2 separate regions of the Homo sapiens genome follow, and region 1 is linked to region 2. Evidence: fine-mapped expression QTL. Tissue or cell type: whole blood. Region 2 holds a variant in brackets; the other region holds the start of a gene. All regions are shown on one strand. Distances are from middle to middle.

Region 1 (2,625 bases), 200 kb before region 2:
ACCCTATATATTTTATCACATAAAATACAGTTTTTTACGATAAGTGCCTTTATATACATTTGAAATTAACTTTGACAGCTGAATCTTTTTCAACACTACTCTTGAATATTACCTTTATGTAGTATTACCTGTGTTACTGCTTCAGTACTAAGAAAATGAGACCATTTTCTCTGACATTACATAAGCCCGACAGCAGACGAGAGAAACGCTGCCTATCTGGGGTGAAAGCTAGCTCCCTCTGAAGCTACCATTTGACACGTTAAAACAATTCTCGAGTTGATTGAATCATTCCAAATTACCAATATTTGACCATTTCAACCTTCAAAAATGGAAATTTCACTTTAACTCATACAGCCAGATATACCTAGACAAGCTTTAAAAACACATAAAAAAATTTCCTTTAACATTATTACTCAGAAGTTGATTACAGTCAACTATATAGAAAGGAAAATCTTAACGCTTCCATACACCCTGAAAATTTATGAACTTTTGCTCCATCTGCTTAAACCTATATTGCATCCTCGTTTTTAGTTTTTATTTTTTAAAGATTGTTTTAAAAAGGTGCACCAATCAAAAGATAATTAATGGTCTTGGTCTTTGTTCTATCAGATGTCCATGCAAAGATATGGATAATGGTTCCATCACCAAATTTTTAACTAACTCCAAATATTGTATTTGTGGCTCACACTAGGGATCCCTTGACCCAGCTCGGCAAGTGTGAAATCACGAAATAAATGAAGGTTAACAAAGACTGGTCTAAGGAATAGTTCACTACAATACCGCAATGCTCTTCTCACTAATACTCGACTCTGCATTTCGGTACTTATATCTGAAAGATTTGCAAATAATGACAACATTCGTGCCAGACATTACTGCAAGTGAGGAACAGACTAAAGGAGAGGAAGGAACAAAATGCCTTCCAAGAGAGAAACATTCATTAGCCTTACTGGCAAGTGTCTAAAGCAAACAAGGAAACTGCAAAATAATTACTTAGTTACAAATAAACGCTTTTAGCACAGTACCTTTTTGTGTCTGTCCCTCTTCCATATTCTCTTCCATGGCTACCTTTCTTCAGTAGAATCTGGTACACGGAATTAATCAAAAGCTCAATTAGATGTTGGAAAAACTGGGGGTTTTTTTTTTTTTTTTTTTTTTTTTTTTTTTTTTTTTTTCCTGGGAAGCTCCAACAGCAGTGGCTTGGGCAAGTCCTCAGAGCTTAGCTCAGGCTCCCTCGTTCCTCTTGTTTGCTTGGAGACAGGCTGTCAAGTGTAATTTCATTCAAATTACTCTTCCGTGAAGATTATCAATTTTTCTTCTCAAAGCTGCCCATTGTGTACCACTGTAAGCAGGTATTCAAACAAATAGCCTGAGAATTTTGGGGGGAAATTTGGTCTGAATCCCAGGAGCAGAGACACTATGATTCACAAGTCTTGCTTTGCATTTAAAATGGGGAAAAGAAATTGAGGTTTGTATTGAAATCTGGGCTTTAAATTGGAAACAGGCTGAGCTGTGAACAGATGGAGGGGTGTCCTCCTAACATGAAGCCGACCACCAACCCGTAATTCCCCCCTTCATTCCAGAGTGGGAAAGCCCAGATTCCCGTCGGTTCTTTATGCTGCAGCAGTGGCTTCTCACCCAGTCAGATACGTTGCAAAAAAACTGTGTTTTCCTTTTCTCTCCTCACTAAGTATTTAGTTAATTTGATTTAAGGTGCCAAGAAAGGATGCAGTTATACCATCTCAGGGTTTATCTGCAAAAGTTTATTACTAAGACAGGACTTGTAATCCCACACCTTTGAGATTTAAAAAGAAATAGAAGCGTGGCTGTCAAAGGAGTGAGTATAAAGCTCTAAGCCTGAGAGATACATGTTTTAAGTAATTATTTTACTTAGTGCCATATGACTCTTAAGTAAAAGGGAGAAAACCACTGGAAGGAAAAACCCTATTGATGTCTTTGTTATTTATTGTTATGATTATAGCCCACGAAAGCTGCTGGTTTCCAATGAGAATCTCTTGAAAGGGAATTTCTTTAAAGGTCAGTGTTAGGGAATGAGAAGAGTGATGTAAGGGAGGAACAAATTTTAGATAAGAAACAAGAGGATAGCAATTTATAATGGGAATCTGCAAGCTGATTTGGAATGCAAATCACAATGCTGCAGTCTGGCGATAATTAGCATTTGTACTTCAGCCTACTGAGTGACAGGGCACAGTCCAAGAGTCTCAATACTTCACAAAAGGTATAGCAAGAAAATAAACAGTATCTCTTTCAAGGAGCATAAACCTTTCCTAGAGTAGAAAGAAAGGATCCTTGCCTCTGTCTTCATCTCCAAATCAGCCAGCACACACACACACAGGGACAGAAACACACACAGAGGGACAGAAAGACACACACAAGCACACACACGGAGAGGCACACACACACACAAGGACACACACACAGACATAACTGTAACTCTCTGCCTTTAATGAAAAATAGCTCACATCCTCATTATCCATAGCATACGTTTCTTGCATTATAGCTTGTATTTCACATGCATTCTTTAAAGCAGGCCAGTAGCATGCTGCACATCACCCTCTAAATATTACAAAAGCAGCTATTTAGAGGAAACACAATTACTGCATTCCA
Region 2 (2,764 bases):
CCCTGCTACTTCTTATTTTTTGCAGTTTATTCAAAAGGTGAACAAAAATCTTCCATTATACTATCTCTTGCCAATACTACACGAAAATCATATTCAAAAGAGAAAACTAAAATATATCTTTGCATCAGCATTGTTAATGTTAGAGCTAATTTAATAAAATACTATAAATAGTTCCATTTAATCTCAATCAGTTTTGACCACATAAGATTTGTATAAAACTTTTATAACAAAAATTTTTTCATTCTTTTTCTTTCCCCAACTTTCTATATCCATTTAGTTTTATCTATTATTTTTTCCCTTCAATTTTAAATAACATTTATATGGCCTCTGAACTAGACAAAAATTAATTTACCTTTTCTTTAACAAAACCACATTCTCACACCTTTGTTATAACCTTCCCCACCCAAAACACATTGAACTTTCCTTATACATTTTTCATACAGAAATGTTTCTCACATCTGGTAGTTTTAATTTTATATACTAATTACAATGTTAACTCTTAGTAACCCTAATTTTCAGGGAAAAACCTTAGAAGTTAGCAATTTTAATTGTTATATACCAGACACAGTGCCCAGGACCTTTCAAGACAATTCCTGGTGAATCCAACTTCTTTCAAGGAGGAAAGACCTTTCCAGACAATGTCTAATGAATCCAACTCCTCCCTGCATGGCCATGAGGCACAGCTGGGTCCGGTAGGATGGGGTTCAAGTGCTGTGCCCTAGCCCTCACTGTGACCAAGTGTCTAAACCCTAGAATCTAAAGACTCAAAACCAAAGAAATAAGCTCGCAGACAAATTAAGCAAGTATCAAATATATCACAGAAGAAACCATTTTTTGGCCTTAAAAACATGTAGAAGAGACAGTATAAATTTGTCTGTCCAATAGATCCAGGCAAAAATGTGTGAATTATATGTAATACCTACAATTCTGAAGACATTCTAATTGTATTTTACTAACAGTTTTTAAGCCAGTTTTATTTACCAAAGATTTCTCATGTCACATGACCTTGAAAAGCACTGGGATTTAATCTAGGCATGAGTGACTATGGGTCATTGAATGAGCATTTTATGTTCCAGCCAAATATCATTTCTACATTGCCAATGATTTTTAATTCACTGAGGGAGAATGTTCAATAAGAGGAAAGGAACACTGACAATGGAGAATGGGAACACACAAACATTTAATAACTGTGGACAAAAGGAGTTCATGCAGAGGAGTGCAAAAAATAATCTTAGGCTAGGAAAAGAATCCAGAGAAAGTCCTGTAGAGAACGTTTCAACAAGAAAGAAGTGTCAACTAGATAAAACAGAAAGAGCGAAGAAGACGAGGACTGGCAAGTTCCCTTCGGATTGGTGGTTATGAAGTCACTGGTGAAACAGTAGCAAGAGTATTATGGAAAAGTGAAGAGCAGAGAGA[T/A]AAAGAATAAGGAAACGGGTGGTAGAAAAAGAGTGTGGACAACCTATTTACAGTTCACAGTGAAGGAAGGCAGAGTGGGCAATAAGTGTCAGAGAAAGTTTATTTATGAAAGAAAAAGAACTGTATGTTTCATATGTTAATGCATATATAGGTTTCAATCTTAGAGATCTACTTCTTAGAGTAGAATGAAGAGATACTATCTGGAACACAGGAGGAGGAATAAGCCAGAGAGAACAGGCAAAATTGCCTAATCCTCTGAGATAGAAAAAGAAGTAGAGAAAGTGAGTGTAAAGAAAAAAGAAGAAAGATTTTTATTTCAGTATGGAGCTTTGGAGCAGAGGGCTGATAACCTCAGGACCTCATGGAGGCCTGATAACCTCAGTATTCCGTAGGTATGTACTAGGAAGGAGATGTGCTGAGAGAGAACAAATTGGGGCTGCAGCTCCACTTAAGAAAATTAATGAAGTTTGTTACAGCTGCTGTAGTGAAGAGGAGAGGGAGGTGACCACGGTATAATAAAGAAACATCAAGTAACATTGAAGTCCAAGCAGAGACTGAATCTAAATTTATAGAGACACCAATCTATAACTTGACTATAGGAGAGGATAAAACAGAAAGCTGAATTTAAAGAAAACTGAGAGCATTTGTGAGTGTAATGGTAGAGCGGTAGGAAGAAGAAGGAGGTAAGGCTGATGGCAAAAACTACAAAATGAGTTAATTCATCTTGGGTCTAAATTAGAACAGGAAGAAAGAAGACCCCAGGACAGTAGCTATGGACTGTGAGAGAAGAAGGGGACACAGTACTGAAAAGATAAAGGAAGTTTAAGAGCAGATTTGGCGTAAATAAAGCTTGAAAGATGGGGATAGACAGAAGTTGTTGTTCAGCTATTGCTGTATTAGACCTTAATATTTCAGAGGCTGAGAAATTTGGAGTGCAGAGAGATCCAGGGAAAGACTAAAGATTAGGTTTGTAAAGTTCAGCAGAAGTGACAGTTCCTGCTATTGAGGCAAGTCTTTGAAGACAGGTGCTGGAAGAATTATTAATAAGGATACTACAGTACACCACAGTGATTATATGGATTGCAAAGAAAGAAAAAAATGTCAAAGTCCAATTTAAATAAGATAATGCATTAGAAAGGCTGAAAATTTTAAACAGTTATAAAAATGTTAGCTGCAACTATGAAAATTGCTGAAGGGAATAAATGAAAACAGTCGATGTATACCATAAATATGAAGCATAAATTTTCATAATTTATATACGAGTAAGGACCAAGAGGAAACCATGGATCCTTGAGCAGGGTAACCAATGATAAAAAAGATGGGGAGATCAGGCTGATTTTCCAGGGAG

Evidence for each region. PIP is the estimated chance that this variant, and not a neighbour inherited with it, causes the effect.
Region 1: it holds the start of GPM6A, and the variant in region 2 is fine-mapped to the expression of GPM6A in whole blood (INTERVAL, PIP above 0.99).

What each region holds. Positions count from the first base shown.
Region 1 is chr4:175,811,169-175,813,793 of GRCh38, forward strand. It overlaps GPM6A (glycoprotein M6A), which reads right to left and starts at 1,096. Exons shown (of 7, transcript NM_201591.3): 1 at 1,023-1,096. The coding sequence starts at 1,059. GPM6A-DT (GPM6A divergent transcript) reads left to right here. Exons shown (of 8, transcript NR_125901.1): 8 at 692-1,021.
Region 2 is chr4:176,008,649-176,011,412 of GRCh38, forward strand. No RefSeq gene overlaps it. Among named protein-coding and RNA genes, the nearest start is that of WDR17, 56 kb to the right of the region's middle. The variant T/A (reference allele first, on the strand shown) is at 1,417.